3 separate regions of the Homo sapiens genome follow, and all the other regions are reported to be linked to region 2. Evidence: microRNA targets listed by miRTarBase, many of them from high-throughput screens and not tested one by one. Region 2 holds a microRNA gene; each other region holds the end of a gene's coding sequence.

What was found. Region 2 holds the annotated microRNA hsa-miR-671-5p (AGGAAGCCCUGGAGGGGCUGGAG, at 1,206-1,228, shown strand). A microRNA usually pairs through its seed, bases 2 to 8, with sites in the 3' UTR of a target mRNA and lowers its output. Matches are read on the target gene's strand: a 7mer-m8 pairs with bases 2 to 8, a 7mer-A1 pairs with bases 2 to 7 and ends in A, and an 8mer does both.
Region 1: miRTarBase lists NACA as a target of hsa-miR-671-5p. The part of its 3' UTR that is shown has no 7-base or 8-base seed match.
Region 3: the mRNA of FBXO36 is a reported target of hsa-miR-671-5p. Seed matches in the 3' UTR shown: 8mer at 1,841-1,848.

The regions. Positions count from the first base shown.
Region 1 is chr12:56,709,586-56,712,837 of GRCh38, forward strand. It overlaps NACA (nascent polypeptide associated complex subunit alpha), which reads right to left. Exons shown (of 9, transcript NM_001365896.1): 8 at 3,201-3,252; 9 at 2,842-2,967. The coding sequence ends at 2,953. Among named protein-coding and RNA genes, the nearest start is that of NACA, 14 kb to the right of the region's middle.
Region 2 is chr7:151,237,244-151,240,495 of GRCh38, forward strand. MIR671 (microRNA 671) reads left to right here and starts at 1,178; the gene lies at 1,178-1,295. It overlaps CHPF2 (chondroitin polymerizing factor 2), which reads left to right. Exons shown (of 4, transcript NM_019015.3): 4 at 131-1,579. The coding sequence ends at 1,438. SMARCD3 (SWI/SNF related BAF chromatin remodeling complex subunit D3) reads right to left here. Exons shown (of 13, transcript NM_001003801.2): 9 at 3,182-3,252; 10 at 2,869-3,004; 11 at 2,381-2,503; 12 at 2,153-2,254; 13 at 1,537-1,913. The coding sequence ends at 1,860. It overlaps LOC124901779 (a long non-coding RNA gene), which reads left to right and starts at 2,418. Exons shown (of 2, transcript XR_007060596.1): 1 at 2,418-2,509; 2 at 2,776-3,252. RefSeq lists an enhancer at 2,308-3,252.
Region 3 is chr2:230,010,297-230,013,548 of GRCh38, reverse strand. It overlaps FBXO36 (F-box protein 36), which reads right to left. Exons shown (of 4, transcript NM_174899.5): 4 at 430-2,853. The coding sequence ends at 2,665. Among named protein-coding and RNA genes, the nearest start is that of SLC16A14, 57 kb to the left of the region's middle.

The sequences.
Region 1 (3,252 bases), not on the chromosome of region 2:
CCAGCCTGAGCGACAGAGCAAGTCTGCATCTCAAAAAATTAAATAAATAAGAAAGACTGAGAGGTAGGAATTAATAGCAGAAGAAAAGGGGGAACTGATGTTGTGAGATTCTTGAGGTGGGAAGTAGTGAACACTACTGCAGTGATGCAAAAAGGGTCTTGAACAAGATAGTTGTTTTTAAAAAAATTGGGAATGAGTATCTAAATTTCTTCCTGAAATAATTATTGGATTGACTCAGATTGGCTGTTAGGCGCCTTTTTTCTCATGAGATTTTGTTCATCAAATAATCAACTGTTTTGAAATGAGATGAAAGGTCTTCATTCTGAGCCAATCTTCAGATTTCTATTTGTGCTCCCACAGTACAGCCTACTACTTCCTAGCTGGGGGAAACAAAAGGCCCTGCTGTTTTTAGTGGCTTTGAGAAAGTCATAAACTCCTTAGTCCTCAGCTTTCACTCACATCTACTAAAATAATGCCTTTTTTTTTCTTTTTTTTTTTGAGATGGCATCTTGTGGCCCAGGTTGGAATGTAGTGGCGCGATCATGGCTCACTGTAGCCCTGACCACCGAGGGTCAAGGGAGCAGGGTCAAGGGAGCAGGCTCAAGTGATCCTCCCACCTCAGCCTCCTTAGTAGCTGGAACCAAAGTGCACAATATCACACCTAGCTAGTATTTTTAGTTTTTGTAGAGGCAAGGTCTCTGTATGTTGCCCAAGCTGGTTTTGAACTCGTGGGCTCAAAGGATCTTCCTGCCTGTACTCCCAAAGTGTTGGGATTTCAGGCAGAAGCCACCCTCCTTGGCCTCTGTTTTTTTTTTTTTTTTTTGAGATGGGAGTCTTGCTTTGTCACCTAGGCTGGAGTGCAATGGTGCCATCTCGGCTCACTGCAACCTCTACCTCCTGGGTTCAAGCGATTCTCCTGCCTCAGCCTCCCGAGTAGCTGGGACTACAGACGCATGCCACCATGCCCAGCTAATTTTTTTTGTATTTTTTTTTTTTTTTTTGAGACGGAGTCTCGCTGTCGCCCAGGCTGGAGTGTAGTGGCGCGATCTTGACTCACTGCAACCTCTGCCTCCCGGGTTCAAGCAATTCTCCTGCCTTAGCCTCCTGAGTAGCTGGGATTATAGGCGCCCGCCACCACGCCCAGCTAATTTTTCTGTTTTTAGTAGAGACGGGGTTTCACCATGTTGGTCAGGCTGGTCTCAAACCCCTGACCTCGTGATCCACCCGCCTCGGCCTCCCAAACTGCTGGGATTACAGGCATGAGCCACCGCGCTGCCCTTTTTTTTGTTGTTATTTTTAGTAGAGATGGGGTTTCACTGTGTTAGCCAGAATGGTTTGGATCTCCTGACCTTGTGACCCGCCTGCCCTGCCTGCCTCAGCCTCCCAAGTTGGTGGGATTACAGGTGTGAGCCACTGTACCCGGCCGGCCTCATTTTTTATGGAGACCAAAAGACTGAATTCTATAAAAATGTCTTAACTCCTTTAGTTCTAAAGCCCAGTTTTAGATGTTAGCCACATTTATTCCCATTCTAACATATTCCTTCTAGGTGTATTTTCACATGTTCATTTCAGGATTCTTGCCTCTACATTTACTTGTAACTTTCCCATTTCTAAATTGTAGCCCTTTGATTTCCTCCAAACCATTCTCTGACAACCCAAACTGAGTTTTTCTTGGAATTCCTATGTAGCTATCTGTAAACTAACTGTTATGTTTTAGTTAGCCTGGGAGAGTCCTAGTTTTCATTTATTGTCCTAATATGTAATTATGGCTGTCCTAATCAGAAGCTACTTTGTAGATTAAAATGTCTGTAGAGAATATGCTTAAGAGCAGAAAGTTTACAATATACTCAAAATCTTCCCCTTCAGGAGGTAGCTTTTTCATGTACCTCCAACTTTCTCTTCAACCCTGTACCAAGCTCTTACATGTCGATATGTAACCAATGTAAACTCCTCAGAGGCCACAAAAGCCCCAGTGTGCATTCAGAAAGATTGGAGTTCAGTGAAGGGGCTGATTACTAGATACAGAAGAATCGGGATCTGCTAACAGTTAACATCTGGGAAAGAAAGTGGAAATGAGAAACTATTTTTTTGAGACAGTGTCTCACTCTGTCGCCCAGGCTGGAGTGCAGTGGTGTGATCTCAGGGATTACTCAGTGATCCTATTTTTTGTAGAGGCGGGGTTTTGCCATGTTTCCCAGGCTGGTGTCAAATTCCTGGGCTAAAGAGATCCACCTGCCTTGGCCTCCCAAAGTGTTGGGATTACAGGTGTGAGCCGTCGCGCCTGGTCAGAAATGAGAAACTTTATAGTCAAGTTGTATTTCCTTAAGTTAAGAAGGTCCTAACAGCCTAGTATAGTAACTTTTTTTTTTTTTTTTTTTTTTTTGAGATGGAGTCTTGCTCTGTCTGTCGCCCAGGCTGGAGTGCAGTGGCGTGATCTGGGCTCACTGCAAGCTCTGCCTCCCAGGTTCACACCATTCTCCTGCCTCAGCCTCCCAAGCAGCTGGGACTACAGGTGCCCGCCACCACGCCCGGCTAATTTTTTGTATTTTTAGTGGAGACGGGGTTTCAACGTGTTAGCCAGGATGGTCTCAATCTCCTGACCTCGTGATCTGCCCCCTCCTTGGCCTCCCAAAGTGCCAGGATTACAGGCGTGAGCCACCACGCCTGGCCAGTAACTTCTTAAAAGAGGTATAAAGTCTGAGATTCTAAGTGGGAAATCTGTGGCACTAAACCTTATCAAATGAGGGAGGCCTTAGGAGTAATTAATAAATTACTAGAACCTTTTTAAGTTTTTTTTTTTTTTGGTGTGGGGGGGTGGCGGGGAAGAGACCAGTCACCGACTGAATTCATCCAACAAGAAGCCATAACTTTATTTATGATAGAAACAGTACAAATTTCAAACCAAGCTGCAGTTACTCCTTTGAGACACCAAAAAAAGTTGCTTCCATATGGTTACATTGTTAATTCCTGTAACAGAGAAAAGATAATTAGCGGTTCTTATAGGCAAATCAGGAGAATTCAGGTCACTAAAACTCTTACAGGCAAATCAGGAGAATTTAGGCCACTAAAACCTATACGGCAACTCAGAAGAGGCTCTGGAATGAGGTTCCTTAATTGGCTGATATTTAGCAAGACAAAATAAAGTCACTCATAATTGGTCAGGGCAGAGGGAGTCAAGGAACAAAGGCTTGAACACTTACCATAATCGCATTTACAATATCATTACTGTTGTTCTTCAGGGCTCGGACTGCC
Region 2 (3,252 bases):
AGGGACCCCTCACTAAGTGTTGATGGAGTTAGGACAGAGCTCAGCTGTTTGAATCTCAGAGCCCAGGCAGCTGGAGCTGGGTAGGATCCTGGAGCTGGCACTAATGTGAGGTGCATTCCCTCCAACCCAGGCTCAGATCCGGAACCTGACCGTGCTGACCCCCGAAGGGGAGGCAGGGCTGAGCTGGCCCGTTGGGCTCCCTGCTCCTTTCACACCACACTCTCGCTTTGAGGTGCTGGGCTGGGACTACTTCACAGAGCAGCACACCTTCTCCTGTGCAGATGGGGCTCCCAAGTGCCCACTACAGGGGGCTAGCAGGGCGGACGTGGGTGATGCGTTGGAGACTGCCCTGGAGCAGCTCAATCGGCGCTATCAGCCCCGCCTGCGCTTCCAGAAGCAGCGACTGCTCAACGGCTATCGGCGCTTCGACCCAGCACGGGGCATGGAGTACACCCTGGACCTGCTGTTGGAATGTGTGACACAGCGTGGGCACCGGCGGGCCCTGGCTCGCAGGGTCAGCCTGCTGCGGCCACTGAGCCGGGTGGAAATCCTACCTATGCCCTATGTCACTGAGGCCACCCGAGTGCAGCTGGTGCTGCCACTCCTGGTGGCTGAAGCTGCTGCAGCCCCGGCTTTCCTCGAGGCCTTTGCAGCCAATGTCCTGGAGCCACGAGAACATGCATTGCTCACCCTGTTGCTGGTCTACGGGCCACGAGAAGGTGGCCGTGGAGCTCCAGACCCATTTCTTGGGGTGAAGGCTGCAGCAGCGGAGTTAGAGCGACGGTACCCTGGGACGAGGCTGGCCTGGCTCGCTGTGCGAGCAGAGGCCCCTTCCCAGGTGCGACTCATGGACGTGGTCTCGAAGAAGCACCCTGTGGACACTCTCTTCTTCCTTACCACCGTGTGGACAAGGCCTGGGCCCGAAGTCCTCAACCGCTGTCGCATGAATGCCATCTCTGGCTGGCAGGCCTTCTTTCCAGTCCATTTCCAGGAGTTCAATCCTGCCCTGTCACCACAGAGATCACCCCCAGGGCCCCCGGGGGCTGGCCCTGACCCCCCCTCCCCTCCTGGTGCTGACCCCTCCCGGGGGGCTCCTATAGGGGGGAGATTTGACCGGCAGGCTTCTGCGGAGGGCTGCTTCTACAACGCTGACTACCTGGCGGCCCGAGCCCGGCTGGCAGGTGAACTGGCAGGCCAGGAAGAGGAGGAAGCCCTGGAGGGGCTGGAGGTGATGGATGTTTTCCTCCGGTTCTCAGGGCTCCACCTCTTTCGGGCCGTAGAGCCAGGGCTGGTGCAGAAGTTCTCCCTGCGAGACTGCAGCCCACGGCTCAGTGAAGAACTCTACCACCGCTGCCGCCTCAGCAACCTGGAGGGGCTAGGGGGCCGTGCCCAGCTGGCTATGGCTCTCTTTGAGCAGGAGCAGGCCAATAGCACTTAGCCCGCCTGGGGGCCCTAACCTCATTACCTTTCCTTTGTCTGCCTCAGCCCCAGGAAGGGCAAGGCAAGATGGTGGACAGATAGAGAATTGTTGCTGTATTTTTTAAATATGAAAATGTTATTAAACATGTCTTCTGCCAAACTGTTTTTAGGTCTAGGGAAAATTGAGTAAGGAGAAGAATCCAAGGGAAGGGAATGGGGAGTCGTCCCGAGGGACCCACTGCCTCCCCACCTTCTTCCCTTCCCCTTCTCTCCCCCTCCCCTCCCCAGTTTCCAATGACCACACGGCTGCTGTCAGATGAATGACTTTTAATCCAGCCCCACACCCCAAGGTGGCAGAGGAGTGATGCTGGAGCCCGGGGCAAAATGCTGGGGCCCGGGACACGGCTGAAAGTTCCGTCGTGCTGCTTATTTTTGGGCTCCTAGGTGTTGCGCACAACCAGCGACTGCTCCAGCTCCTGCCTGCGCTGCTGGATCTTTAGAGGAAGTGAGAACAGGAGCAGGTGTCAGTGTTCTGGTGAGTGATCAGGACAATCCCACCTACTGACACCGCCTGCCCTGAAAGAGCATCTGGGAGCAGGGAGGGCCATTGCATGGTGAGGCAGCGTGGTGAAGCTTTACTGTGGGGAGCTGCGAGGGCTGCCCACAAGCTGAACAGGGAGGTTTCTCTTGGAGTTGAGGATGGGGAAGCCTCAGGGCAAGGGTCCCTGCATACCTTGCAGTAGAAGTAGCGACTGACGGCCTCCTGGGACCAGGGCTGGTGGTAGAACTCAGCCCGGCGCTCCTCTTCAGGGTTGCCGGCTACATCTGTCATCACCTGGGAGGGAGCGTGGGGTGAGCCCTGAGCCCTGAATCCCCTCACCTGCCCCTGGAGTACAACGTTTACTCTCTTTCCCGCTGTGCTTGTCTTCCACTCCAGTACTCCCTGAGTCTCCCTCTTCACCTTGAGGTCCCGGCTCTGGGAGCGGAGCAGGTCTTGGACATAGCCTTTGGGGTCTCTGGAGAAGCTTAGCATGAAGTCCCTCTGGATCTTGAGCTGGTTTATGGACTCAATCGTCTCATGGATCTGCAGGTAGAAAGATAGATGCTTTCCACCTGGCTTTGGTGATGTGGGAGACGAGGGGAAAGGAAGCGGGTGGGAAGGGGAGGGAGAGGGGGTTTCTTCTGTGAAGGACAACCCCTCAGAGCCCCTGATTTCTCTGAAGTCCCAGGGGAGGAGGGGATGGGCAGAACTAAACTTGGAATGAGGTTCAGCTCCAAGCAGCATGGACGGGCCATGTGTGTCCCATTGGCCCAGAGTCTGGTCTCTTTTTTTTTTTTTTTTTTAATTTAACCCAGACTGCTCATCTGCAACCACACCCTGGTCTCAGAAAAGTCTCCTCTATCATCTCTGGGTTAATGTCCCACTCCAGCTCTGGGCTTGGGCCCCACCTTACTGTCCAGAGCACTGATCTCCTGCTGGTTGGCCGTGGATAGGAGGAAGCTGCTCATCTGCCCCTTTAATGGCTCCTCCACCTCCACGTCAATGTCATAGCACGCCGTCTTCTTCTGGTCTGAAGGGTCCACGCTGCCAGGGAAGTCCAGCCCTTCGTGTCCACGATGCCCCCATACGGCCCCAGGGCCCCGGGGCTGGGGCAGATCCAACAGGGAGGGAGAAGAGATGGGAGTGGGAGGAGAGGGAGGGGCAGGGAAGGCAGGAACGAGATCATTCCCTGGTCTGAGAAGCAAGCTGGGGCCACCTCACCTGATGACATGGTTGATGACAATTGGGTCAGGGGGCAATAGCAGGGCTGTGAGGCGCTGGGGAATCTCAGA
Region 3 (3,252 bases), not on the chromosome of region 2:
GCTACTCGGGAAACTGAGGCAGGAGAATCACTTGAACCCAGGAGGTGGAGGGTTCCATGAACTGAGATTGCACCATTGCACTCCAGCCTGGGTGAAAAGAGCAAAACTCTGCCTCAAAAAAAAAAAAAAAAAAAAATTGTGTGGCATTTCACTCTGAAATGTTAAGACATAAAGCAGATTTATCCATCCACATGAAAGCAGAAATAGAAATGAAAGCTGTTAATAGAAGCAGAAAGTCAAGACCATCGCTGCCTATTACCATGTTATGGGATCGTCACATGGAACCTCACATGGAAAATGAGATGGGGGAGGGAGGGACAAAGTGTTTCAACCACTGAGGATGCTGGGGAGACACAGGATGTTCACTTGATGATATTGTTCCTATTTTGGCAAAAACAATTGTAATCAAGTAATAAGGCACTCAGATTATTATGGCAAGTAAGTATTAAAATAATTTAATAATCTGTATTATTTTAGCTATTATTTAACAATAGTTAACATATTAATGGCTCTTTTTTTATTTACTTTAGCATTTATTTTTATAACATTTTTATATGTAATATTATTATATACTACATATAAGTATATATCGTAAGTATAATATATATGTGAGTAGGTATATACATAGTGTTTTCAAATTGCCATATTTATGTTCTTATTGATTGAAGCTGAATCAACTATTGCGCATGTCCATAAGCTTTCAGAATCTGTTTGTTGATAAAATACTACACATGAAGCTTTAATCATCTTGCACTGATGTTACCAATAAGTTACAGTTACATATTTATGAAGTTATGTTGACATACGTAATTGTGGTTGTGTCTGCATCCTCACGATAAAACCTACGTTCTGTCATTGAAAATTAGGCCATGAGTGAAGTCTGGGAGCTCAGGGAGAGCCAAGGCAGCTAGAGCTCTGCAGAGCACGTGCCTTCTTGCTCTCAGCTGCCTGCTGGTTACCTTTACCTGTACCTGCCCTAGCAAACTCTCCTAAGTGGAGAATGAGGCCTGGGTCTCTTGACAATTAAAGCTTTGCTCTGTTCTTGGACTAAATCCAGACATAACCACGTCAGGCTCCTCATCTGCTGGGAAGCAGATTGCACTGGATTTCACAGTCACGGAAAACTTTTGACTGTGTGTACCTCCAGCAATGAGAAGCAGAGAGGGCTAGGTTGACGGTCTCAAACTGGCACCGGGGAGCCCCGTGACTGGGTTTTAAGGGTGTGTGAATGAAGATTAAAATCTTGTTTGATATTAACATGGGTTCAGTTTTTTTTTTTAATGTCACTAAGCCATGCTGTAGAGCCCTTCTGGAAGGACTTAGGTGGGACAAAGAGCCAGAGTCCACAACTTCTGTATTGTTCACAGGGCCCTAGTGCATCCTGGGAAGTTTCTCTGGCACCGGAGGTGAGTTTTCCTAGGTAGGAAAGTGAAGGTTGCAGGAAAGAAGAAATTATAAGGCTATATTATAATGTGATGTGGAAGTAGAAAGCTACTTTGCTCTGTAACCTAAAAGGAGTCATTAGATTATTTGCTGCTATGAGTTCATTTTCTAGGGGTACTTAATAATCATGAAAGTGCAGGGAGAAAAACATTTTTAAGTAAGCCTTCTCAGTGAAGTGACCTTTCTCCCCAGGACTGTATTCTTTTTACCCCTCTGCCATGTTAACAGCATGCAAACCATATTTACATTTTTACTTAGTTAACTCATAGTCTGTTTTCTTAAATATCCTTGTTAAAAGTGGTAGCTGTTCACATTCCTTTGGGGAACAGCATTTCTCTAAGAAATGTTTATAGGTTTTAGCCAGACATAGTGGCTCATGCCTGTAATCCCAGCACTTTGGAAGCCAGAGCAGGTAGATCACTTGAGGTCAGGAGTTCAAGACCAGCCTGGCCTACATGGCGAAACTCCACCTCTACTAAAAAGAAAATACAAAAAAAAAAAAAAAAAGAAAAGAAAAGAAATGTTTATAGGTTTATTTAACAATGTGAAGTAGTCCTGGGAAGTTGTACTTTGAGCAAGGTCCGCAAGCAGGATGCCTGCACTTCTCCAGTCATGCTCCAGCACCAGGTCGGAAGCTGTCTACATGCGGGGATGGACCCTGGCATCCTGGGCTCACAAGGATAGGGCCCTGAATATGGACTTAGCAGAACAAAGTTGGGAAGGCAGCTGCACCCACCCTGAGTGCCTCCCGTGGTACGTGCCCTTCACAGTTCCTGGTGGGGACACTCAGCCACCAGCTTCATGGCTGGACGCAGACGACACAATGCCAGGAAAAAATTCAAAAGCCCCATTACCCTTTCTAATGCCTAGATAAAATAGATGTCTAATAAAAACCTGCTAATAATCATTTATTGTTTGTTTATATACAATAGAAACCTCTTTTATAATGGGTGTGGGATAAGGATGATGATGGCCTATGGGGCTCCCTGTCTTACAGCCCTTGTCCTCGGGCCATGATTTGACCTCAGAATGACGGTGACTCTAGCAAGGCACTGGGGAGCCAGACTCTGCTGCATTTGTGTGCAAATCCCCTACGAGTTTCAAATGGCTCCACGCATCAACAAAACCTCTTAGTTCTTAAGAAAAGGAGACAGAAGAGATTTGGACACTGAAGAGAAACACAGCCATGCCTGAGCTCCCTGCTGGTAGGAAAATGTGTGCCTAAGGTTGCTTTTCTCTCAGGTTTCCATATTTTTGTTTCCTCTTGCGGAGCTGCCGCTGGAGCTGGAGCTTGTTGGTGAAGAACAGCTGTCTCCAGCCTGTGTCCTCCGCCAGGGCCCTCACGTCAGGAGTGATGGTGTCGCAGGTCGACTGGACTATCTGTTCCCACAGTTTATCAGACATGCACAGCTGTGGGTGGGAAAAGTCAGAGGTGGGTTACAGCACACATGTGTTAACTCATTATCAAACTCTTGCTGCCTGTGGGACACTGGAGAAACACTACCTGTGCCAGACACAGGTCCTGCCTTGAGAAACCTCCTCTTTGAGGAAAACAGCCAGACACAAATATGTAAGTGCACATATATCTAAAGGACATACCCTTCTGCACACACTTAAACTTCCCAGTGACGGCAGTAGAAAGAACATCCTCCTACCAACACCAGGCAACACAACACTCCCTCGTGCAAGGGAAAATGTGTTATTCTCCACCTTCACCCCCACCCCACTGCGGCCAAGTCCCATCAGTCACTGTCAACATCTGGATGAAGTTTGTTGCCTCTAGTTAATTCCAATTCATCTCTATTTATC